Homo sapiens: one gene and its partners. The protein of the gene in region 1 interacts with the protein of each later gene in a biochemical or structural test. Each region holds a gene or a part of one and is shown in the gene's direction. Other genes may lie near its edges.

The links.
Region 2: the proteins of DDX6 (region 1) and RO60 form a complex in vitro, tested with the Homo sapiens proteins (one study listed by BioGRID).
Region 3: the proteins of DDX6 (region 1) and STAT1 form a complex in vitro, tested with the Homo sapiens proteins (one large-scale study listed by BioGRID).

What each region holds. Positions count from the first base shown.
Region 1 is NC_000011.10:118,756,531-118,760,187, reverse strand, and holds part of DDX6 (probable ATP-dependent RNA helicase DDX6), read left to right. Parts: intron 1-143; coding exon 144-266; intron 267-1,285; coding exon 1,286-1,414; intron 1,415-2,900; coding exon 2,901-3,017; intron 3,018-3,657.
Region 2 is NC_000001.11:193,062,523-193,066,179, forward strand, and holds part of RO60 (RNA-binding protein RO60), read left to right. Parts: intron 1-3,657. UniProt on the Homo sapiens protein: RNA-binding protein that binds to misfolded non-coding RNAs, pre-5S rRNA, and several small cytoplasmic RNA molecules known as Y RNAs.
Region 3 is NC_000002.12:190,997,101-191,000,757, reverse strand, and holds part of STAT1 (signal transducer and activator of transcription 1-alpha/beta), read left to right. Parts: intron 1-1,053; coding exon 1,054-1,132; intron 1,133-2,449; coding exon 2,450-2,541; intron 2,542-2,750; coding exon 2,751-2,902; intron 2,903-3,657. UniProt on the Homo sapiens protein: Signal transducer and transcription activator that mediates cellular responses to interferons (IFNs), cytokine KITLG/SCF and other cytokines and other growth factors.

The sequences.
Region 1 (3,657 bases):
TGTTGGAGAGAATTTATTGTTTTCCACCAGGAACATTTCATGGATGCTTTTGTTGGATGATGCCTTATTCTTTGACCATGTATTAACCAAGACCTTAGACATTATTTTATTGTTTTTAAAATTGTCTTTTCTTTCTACTGCAGGCAGATAAGTTGCTGTCACAGGATTTTGTGCAGATAATGGAGGATATTATTCTCACGCTACCTAAAAACAGGCAGATTTTACTATATTCCGCTACTTTCCCTCTTAGTGTACAGAAGTTCATGGTGAGTATAAATCTGTACTTGGAATCAGTGCCATCCTGTGACCTTTGAGTATGCTTTTATTTGTAATTACATCTTCATATCTGTGAATATACTTTATGCTAATTATTTCAAGCCTTTGGCTCTTTCTTCAGTTGATCAATTAAAGATTTGTTTTACGTAAATTAACTGACTTTTTAAGAAGGTTGTAATAGTAACTTAATTAAATTCCTCATCTTTCACTTAGTTTTTGGTGTCATGATGACATAGCCATTGGTGCTAGCTGAATTGATTCCGGTATTATTCTATATACAAAACAGAGCTTGAGTATCCTAAACTGAAATCCAAAATACTGCAGAATTTGAAACCTTTTGAGCCACGAACATGATGCTAAAAGGAAATGTTCTTTGGATTTTGAATTTTCAAATTAAGGATGCTCAGTCACTAAGTGTAATGCACATATTCCAAAATTAGAAAAAATTTAAAACCTGAAACACTTCTGTTCCTAAGCATTTTGGGTAAGGAATACTCAACCTGTAGTAACTTAGCTGCATTTTTGAGATCTTATATCTTAATTTATTTCTATCGGGTCGGGCATGGTGGCTCATGCCTGTAATCCCAGCACTTTGGGGGGCCGAGGCGGGCAGATCACAAGGTCAGGAGTTCGAGACCAGCCTGGGCAACATGGTGAAACCCCGTCTCTACTAAAAATACAAAAATTAGTCTGTTATGGCAGTGCATGCCTGCATTCCCAGCTACTCGGGAGGCCGAGGCAGGAGAATCACTTGAACCCGGGAGGTGGAGGTTGCAGGGAGCAGAGATCGTGCCACTACACTCCAGCCTGGGTGACAGAGCAAGATTTTGTCTCAGGGTGGCAGGGGGGAAATTCTGTAATGACAGATCATATATTTTGTTTTGAAGAGAGTTGCGTCCCTTACAGCAAGAGTTTATCGGACAGAAACGTATAGGGTATATTTTGAATTTGAGATGAACTCTGCTTTCATTTAAGACGACGACTCATCTTTTTCCCGCTCCCCCCCCAGAATTCCCATTTGCAGAAACCCTATGAGATTAACCTGATGGAGGAACTAACTCTGAAGGGAGTAACCCAGTACTACGCATATGTAACTGAGCGCCAAAAAGTACACTGCCTCAACACACTTTTCTCCAGGGTAAGAAGTAGGCTTCTGCTGTTGAATATTATCTCTCGAGTCCCAGTAAAACAGATGATTTCATCAATTTTCCCACCGTCTTCACTGTATAAAAGTTCGTAGTGTTTCTGGCTTGGCACGGTGGCTCATGCCTCCCAGCACTTTGGAGGCTGAGGCAGGCAGATCACGAGGTCAGGAGTTTGAGACCAGCCTGGCCAACATGGTGAAACCCCATCTCTACTACAAAATACAAAAAAATTGGGCATGGTGGCGTGTGCCCATAATCCCAGCTACTTGGGAGGCCGAGGCAGGAGAATTGCTTGAACCCAGGAGGCGGAGGCTGCAGTGAGCTGAGATTGCACCATTGCACTCCAGCTCTGGGCGACAGAGCAAGACTCCGTCTTGGGAAGAAAAAAAAAAAGATTAAAAAATAATTCATAGTGTTTCCTAAAAGGCAGGTTTAGTTGTTGACCTAAAGTTGATACTAAATGATTAACCAAGTCACAGATACACTTTTGAATAGTTTCTGAAATACTTTGACCTTAACTAGGGTTAATCCTCATTATTCACATATTCTGTATTTGTGAATTTGCTTAGTCACTAGAATTTATTTGTAACTCCGGAATTAATACTCAAGGTAGTTCAGCAGTCATTTGTGGACGTGTACAGTGTGGCAAAGAGTTTAAGTCACCTGACATGCACATTCCCAGCTGAGGTCGAAGAAAGCAATCTCTGTCCTCTTGTTTAGCTCTCATACTGTGAACAAGGGTCCTTTTCACAGTCTGCCATGTTTTTCAAGTTTTTGTTGCTGATTTCACAGTTTTAATTGGCCCCTACACATGGTGCTGAAGTGCTGCCCAATGCTGGTGGCATTGGTTGTGAGTATATTAAAGAAGGTATTCTTGGCTGGGCACAGTAGCTCATACCTGTAATCCCAGCACTTTGGGAAGCCGAAGTGGGCAGATCACCTGAGGTCAAGAGTTCAAGACCAGCCTGACCAACAGGCTGAAACCCTGTCTCTACTAAAAATACAAAAGTTAGCCAGGCATTGTGGTGGGTGCCTGTAATCCCAGCTACTCAAGAGGCTGAGGCTGGAGAATTGTTTGAACCCAGGAGGCAGCTGTTGCAGTGAGCTGAGATTGCACCATTGCACTCCAGCCTGGACAACAAGAGTGAAACTCCATTTCACAAAAAAAAAATAAAATAAAATATTTTTAAATGGAAACACATAAAACATAACTACTTTGAATCAGATAATCAATTGTATTACTCTTGTTGACAGTTATGTGGCCCTTAAGAAATATACTCTAATACGGTAAATCTTAGATATTATTATCTTCCATCTATTATTTACAATTTTTACAATTTACCATCTCTCTCATATCATGAGATTCTAAGTTTTAGACCATGTTAATGTTTCTTTTTTGCTGGTTCGTGTTTTCAAGATTTGGCAAACCAAATGAAGGTTTTTTTTATTTTTCTCATACTTATTTTTTTCTGTGCTCAGCTTCAGATAAACCAGTCGATCATTTTCTGTAACTCCTCTCAGCGAGTTGAATTGCTAGCCAAGAAGATTTCTCAACTGGGTTATTCTTGCTTCTATATTCATGCTAAAATGAGGCAGGTGAGTATAAAACTAGAACTTGCACAAATTTAATAAGAAATCTCTTTCTTTATTTTGTTTTAATGTTCTTTTAAATGTCCTGAGTTTAAGAATAAACTGTTCCTTAGTAGCCAAAGGACCTTTCATTTTGACCTCCCTCAGGTTCAATTTTCTAGCAATAAAATAGGGATAATAGTACATATTCATAACTTACAAGGTTGTTAGGAAAATTAAGATAAATGTTTAAATGAGTACTTTGGAAGCTGTCAGGCATGATACAAATGTAAAATTTTATTCTTCCCTTCCTTTCCATGTTTAATTCTCTGTTTAATACAGTAAATAGCCACATGTGGCAATTTAAATCAGTTAAAATTAAAATAAAAAGTCAGTTTCTCAATCACAGCCACATTTCAAGTGCTCAGTTAGGCACCTGTTGCTACTGGATAGTGTATTGGAATTGGAAGTACAGACACAAATATTTCCTTTATTATAGAAGTTTTACTGGACAGCACTGCTCTGGATTTTTAAATATGGCCCCTCAGCTGGCTGATTTTTCTTTTTTTCTTTACTGTTTGCCTTTAGAAAAAGATACAATATCTAAATTTCAGAATTTGATTTAGCAAAAAATAATTTAAAACTGTAACAAAAATGACTTTTTTGT
Region 2 (3,657 bases), on another chromosome or scaffold:
AGAATATAATTCACATATCATGAAGTTCACTATTTTGAAGTATCCAGTGCATTGGGTTCTAGTATATTCACGGAGTTGTGCAGTCATCACCACTAATTTCTGAACATTTTCATCACCCAAAAAGAAATCCCCTACCCATTAGCAGTCACTTCCCAGTGTTCCCCCACTCCGACAGCCTCTGACAACCTTAGACTAATGTACTTTTTATTTCTATGAATTTACCTACTCTGGAAAATTCATATAAATGGAATTGTAATACAATATGTGGCCTTTTGTGACTGGCTTCTTTGACTTGGCATAATGTTTTCAAGGTTTGTTTACATTGTGTCATGTATCACTACTTCATCCCTTTTTATTGTCTAATAATAGTCCATTGTATGGATATACCATATTTTTTTCATCCCTTCATCAGTTGATGGACATTTGGGTTGCTTCTCCTTTTTGACCGTTATGAGTAATGTTGATAAAAACATCTGGATACAACTTTTGGTTTAGATACATGTATTCATTTTTCTTAGGTGTGTGGTAGAATTCCTCGGTCATATGCTAACTATATTTAACCTTTTGAGAAACTGCCAGACTGTTTTCCAAAGTGGCTGTATGATTTTACATTCCCACCAGCAGTATATGAGCGTTTCATTTTCTCTAAATCCTCACCAACACTTAATATTATTGTTTTGATTATAGCTGTCCTAGTGGATGTGAAGTGGTATCTTATTGTGGTTTTGATTTGCATTTCCCTGATGACTAATGATGTTCGTCATCTTTTTATGTGTTTACTGGCCATTTGATAATCTTCTTTGGAAAAACACCTTTTCAGATTCTTTACCCATTTGTGTGTCTTTGGAGTAATATTCACATCTTTTGCCTATTTTTACTTGGGTTATTTATCATTTTATTATTAAGTTGTAAGTGTTCTTAATATATTCTAGATACAAGTCACTTATTGTATGTATGATTTGCAAATATTTTCCTTTTTCTTGGGTTGTCTTTTCACTTTCTTGATGGTGTCCTTGGAAATACAAGTTTTAAATTTTGATAAAGTCCAGTTTATTTTTTTATTTTGTCACTTTTGCCTTTGGTGTCTGCGTTCCAACACTAATTCTGTAGCATCAGCTGGGTGTCCCCCACTTCCGTTTAGTTCTGGCACTAGCTGCCCAGGGTTGGCATCAGATCCCACAAATTAAAGGACAAGGTCCCCACTAAGAATGCCATTAATTTGGACACCAGCTGTAAATGGGGTCCCCAGGCTACTCACACTTCTGCCCTGCGGACTACAAATTCAAGACTTCCCATAATCCCCTCAAGGCTGATAGTTCACTAGAATGACTCACATAACTCACTGAAAGTGCTCTACTTGCAATTACAGTTTTATTATAAGGGATACAACTCAGGAACAGCCAAACAAGAAGTAGACACATATGGCAAGGTCTGGGGCAAGGGAAGGATGCAGAACTTCCATGCCATCCTTGTGAAATGTGGGATACAACTCAGGAACAGCCAAACAGGAAGTAGACACATATGGCAAGGTCTGGGGCAAGGGAAGGATGCAGAACTTCCATGCCCATCCTTGTGAAATGTGGGCACATCACCTTCCCAGCACATCAGTTTTTGTTCACCAAGGATGCTCCACTGAGTATCGATGAAGAAAGTTTTTATGAGGTTTCATCACATGGGCATGATTGATTAAATCATTAGCTACATGGCTGAACTTGATCTCAAGTCCTCCTCCTTTCATGGAAGGTTGGCCTGACCAGTTTATTCCTCTAAACATATAGTTGGTCTTTCTAGTGATTAGCCCCCATCCTGAAGCTACCTAGGGGCCCATGTTGCCTCATTAATGTAACAAAGACACTCCTATTTCTCAGGAAATACCACGGGTTTTTGAAACTTTCTGCTGGGTATTATGTCCAAAGACCAGGTACTCTCTCTTATAAGATGCCACAGTATCACATCACTTTGCCGAATTTTGAGTTTATGTGTGTATCACACTCAGTGACAAGAAGGAGAGTAACTTGGGACATGTTATTCTGTTTTCTGTCTTTTAAAATATGAATATGACCCTGGTAAATTTATATAATCAAGTAGGAAGGTGCCCTGGCTGCTAATAATGTTATCTGTTCCACTGTTTTATGTTGCACTCTGGAAAGTACAGTCACAGAAGCATAGGAAAACCTGAGCAGTTTCTGCTGCAGAAATACTGAAAGGGTATGTCCTCAGGGTTGTCATTTATATCATAACATGCAAAAGGAAGAGTCCATGAATAAGTAACTTTATTTCTTCTAATAGGGATTATAAGGATTATACTTAGAGATTACCTCTTAGACATCCTTCATAGATTTAAAAGTTCATTTTGCTGCTTGCTCTAGAGAAGTACCTGAATACCTAATATTAAATATGTTAGAAAAACAGAAATTTTGTTCTTAGATGACATTTTTACTCAGTATTCATTACTTTTCTTTAGAACTTTATTTTTTCTTGATTATATTTTTCACTACCTGCATATAGTACATTTATCATTCTGATTACAGAATTTATCTTAAAGACTTGTATTATATTTTGCATTATAAATATTGAGGCTTTTATTCTCAAAATGTGTTATGGGAAAGAGAAACCAATTGTGCATAATTATTTGGCAAATGGTTCAGAAAGTCAACTTTAATGATATTTGGCTTTAAGTATGTATTGCTAATTACATAAAAGCAATACAAAAGAGGAGACAAAAATGATAAGATTTGGTTTCTACTTTCAAGGGAACCAATAATGTAGCTACATGTGGTCACAATGAATAATACAAGGAAAAGAATTTGAGGGGAGAGGGAATTTTGAGGTTTGGTTTGGGACCTTTTAAATCCCACCACTTGGGCCTTGGTGCAGGAAAGCAAGTTTAGTAGAATTATCTGATATTAGATGTCATTTCAGTGTTACTCATCTAACAAATAAAACTAATAAGCAGAAGTAGACAGGTTGAAGTGCAACCAGAGCCTGTTTTTATGAAAGCTGAGGGAGAGACTAGCAAAGTCTATGTAATGTAAAGATCAGAAAAACATAACATTGTCTACTGGAATTGGCAATTAAGGTATCAGTCTTTGAGAAGCATGTTAGTCTTCTTAAAGTGTTTTGGATCGAAAGGTAGAGATAAAAGCCAAATTTGAAAAGAGGATAATAATAAATAGGAGAACAGGCATCCACTGCAACAGGAGTTTCAACCTATGCTGTATTCAGTAACTATGAATTTGTCCCTAATGACTAATATGATCATTACATCTCTGATGCCACCTGAGACCTAGGCTTCCACTAACATAAGCAAATTTATACTAGCGTCTTATTTGGAATATTGACACTAATATTCCGAACACAATTCAGATCACTGTCCCCCTCAGTCACATTCAAAATGTGAGGCTCTTCATTCTCCCATGCACTTATCCCTACACCACTATGTGTTCCCCTCTCTGAGACCCAGTCTTTCATTCCTCCCCTCTCTACCAAACTTCTCCACATACCATTTGGCATTCTACATCTCCTGTCAGGGGGGAATGTCTTCAGTTTCCTTATCCCTCATTCCTTCAAATCTATCTTTACCTATACTCTTTACCCTTAAAAGATAAAGGAAATATCTCTTGCTGTCAGTAGGCCAGTCTCAACCTGGATGCTCTA
Region 3 (3,657 bases), on another chromosome or scaffold:
CACCTCTCAAATCACAGTGCCCCAGGATAAACATGGCCCATCCTTCCCAGTCATCTGTTTTATCCTAAGACTTGGAAGAGGAACAAAAATACATTTTATTGAAAGAAATTTGGATACATTTCTGATTAAGACATCCACAGCAATTTTAGGATACAACTTCCAAGTCAATTTATGGAAGCAGAGGGCTGCTCTGGCGTCCTCGATGGTGCGCATTTACTCCTCTCCACTGTTAGGGCTGGTGTGGGGAGGGTTTGAGGAGTTCTTTTTCACAGAGGCCTGTGTTTGTGGAAAAGGCCTTCCAGCTTAGGGGTTTGGTCCTCTGTGGATCTCTGGGTAATAGCAGTATGGCCTTGACTTACATGCTTCAGACAGCATCTTTCCAAACTCCACATTCTTTGGAGCAACTTCATCTTGCGGTCTCCTAGGGAAACATTTCATTAAAGTAGAAACCGAGTGAGCCCAGTCCAGAAATAGCCATGGAAATCCAGAGAAGAATATGTGGAAATGTGACCAAATCCCAAACAAATGAGGCTTATTTGTAGAATGAACATACAATTTATTGTCCAGATGGAGATGCATTTGAGCCGCCAAGAGGGCACTGTTTATAATTACAGCAAGTATGAAACCAGGTCTATCCCGGTAAAGCAGGGATGTATGGTCACTTTTCTTACTTGGAAGGAATGAGGAAATTTTCTGTGAGCTTTTTCCCCGCCTGCTGTGGGCTTCACAGTGGAGTTCTTAAATCATATCTCAGAGGTAGTCTCAAAAATGATGAGGAAGAATCAAAATTTAGGCGCTGGAACCAGGTTAAGGACATACAAATCAGTTTGAGAATTATTGTACGTTTGCTTTTTTAAAAATGTTATGACATACTTATTAATGAAACCGAAATTATTTCATGTATATGATTAGAACTGTCCAAGTCAGATCTCTTTTTGGGGGAGATGGAATTGTTTTCGTGTTTCTCTGGGTTCCATAGAAGCAATACTCTGTTGCCTAAAGTCTTTGGAAGTTGCTGATCAGTAGAAAACATGTTTACATCTTTGTTTGTAGTGTATAGAGCATGAAATCAAGAGCCTGGAAGATTTACAAGATGAATATGACTTCAAATGCAAAACCTTGCAGAACAGAGGTAAGGGTTCACAACTGAAGTGGTGCCCGTTGGCTGCAATTTTTTCTGTTCACACTAGATAACGAAGATGATTACTCCTTTCTATTTGCCGAGTATTTTATGACTCTGAATTCTTCCTTGATAACCCAGGCCAGGGCTTCTCAACATCCAATATTATTGACATTTCGGGCTAATTTGTTGTTGGGGCTGTCCTGGCATTGTAGCGTGTTTAACAGCATCCCCGACTTTTACCCACCAGATGCCAGTAGCACTACCCAGGAGCCCTCACTAGTGACAACCAAAACTGTCTCCAGAGATTGCCAAAAGTCCCCTAGGGGTCAGTGACCCCTACTTGATAACCACTGGTTATGTGTTACTCACCATATTTATTGCGCCTAGCCCACTGACTGACACAGAGCGATAGATATGTGGAGTTCCCCTGCCCTAATATCTCAGGTTTCTTCAAACGTTGCAGGGCCACGTGTATACACAGCAGATAAGCTCAGTATTTTTCTCATGTTTTAAAGCAGTTTTACTGTATTTTCTTACTGTTGCGTGTTTTTAATGAGAGTAGCAACAGAAAAGATCTCAAGAATGTACATTGTGTAGGACACGTAGGGTACTGCTGTTACTCTATTCATCATCTGGGGTATACCATGGTTCATAGGCAGAGATTATCAGTATGATTTGGGTAGAAAGTATAAGAGACAGCAACTTCAACTACCACTTCCTACTCATCTACTTCTCTTTGAAAGCTACAGCTATGCTTTGTATACATTTTTTATCTGAATTCTGTTCAGATAAAACATTTTATTATTTACATTTATTTTTATAATAATAATAACATTATTATTAATGTTATTTACATTTATTTAGGTAATTACCTGACAGTGTCTTAAGTGGCAGATACTACTATGTCTGATTTACATGGGTCACTGAAAACAAGTTTTTTTTGTTTTTTTTTTGTTTTTTTTGTTTTTTTTTGGAGACGGAGTCTCGCTCTGTCGCCCAGGCTAGAGTGCAGTGGCGAGATCTCGGCTCACTCCAAGCTCCGCCTCCCGGGTTCATGCTGTTCTCCTGCCTCAGCCTCCCGAGTAGCTGGGACTACAGGCGTCTGCCACTGCGCCCGGCTAATTTTTGAAAACAAGTATTTTGTTTCAGTGTGTCTAGTTGTTATACTTAGGACTTTTTTTCATGTTCATTAAAGATCGAAGAAAGCCAAACTTTGACCTGTCACTAGGCAGCATTTGTGTCATATTTATCCTAAATTTATATGAATCTTGGCTTTTGTTGGTTTTGTCTTCTTTATATATTTACTGGCTGTCTCTCAATTTATAGAACACGAGACCAATGGTGTGGCAAAGAGTGATCAGAAACAAGAACAGCTGTTACTCAAGAAGATGTATTTAATGCTTGACAATAAGAGAAAGGTAGTTATTTACTTTCCAGAATAGCATGCCACTTTTGTTATACACTGTAAATAATGGACTCAAAGTTTAGAAGAGAGGAAAAATTATAGCCACCTGGCTTAGAGCCCCAGTTGAGAATGAAATGATATTTGCTTTTCTTTTAAAAAATATTTTAAAATTCAGTGATTAAAAATGAATTTATTTCACTTTGTTTCTTCTATTGCCTTTAGGAAGTAGTTCACAAAATAATAGAGTTGCTGAATGTCACTGAACTTACCCAGAATGCCCTGATTAATGATGAACTAGTGGAGTGGAAGCGGAGACAGCAGAGCGCCTGTATTGGGGGGCCGCCCAATGCTTGCTTGGATCAGCTGCAGAACTGGTAAGATTCTCCAAAGCAGAAAACTGGCAGCTGACTGGCTAACCACATAAACACATAAATGTACCTTTGAGCTGTGTTAGTTGAATGGACCCTGTCAAAACATTAGTATAGAGTTTGACATAGTCCAGCTTCTGCTTACCCTGGAAACACTCCCTTGGAAAGCACAGTGTTATTCATGACTCTCGCCACGTTCAGCCACGTCTGCTTGGTTTGGAGCACTCCTGTACCATGGGGTGTCGTTTGACTGTACAAAACATCAGTGACATGGTCGTTATAGAACACATTTAATGACTTGACTCTTAATGTTTCCTTAAAAACAAGATAGCTTGAGGCATTTTTCTAGGCTTACAGAATAGTTTTTTAGGAAACATTCAGTCATCCATCCAGTAATACTTATTAAATGCCTACTGTGTGCCGGGCACTGTAGGACCTGGGCACACAAGGATGAGTGATTCTTGGCCCTTGCCAACAAGGAGTTCTCAGTGTGGAGGGGGGGATGTAGACATGGTAATAATTCGTGTGGTAAAAGTATCCAGGTGCTCTAGCAAAAGGCCATCAGAATTCTGTGGAGGACAAAGGAAAGCATCTCCAGGGAAGGTTTCATAGAGGAAGTGGCCTTGTGCTGACTCAAAAGTCACTAGGATTACTCCACGTAGATCAAGGGGAAGTGCTTTCCAGCACAGAGCACAGCGTGTGCAAAGGCACACATGTGGGAGACTGCAGGGGCTGTATTGGGTGGCTGGAGAGTGGGGTGT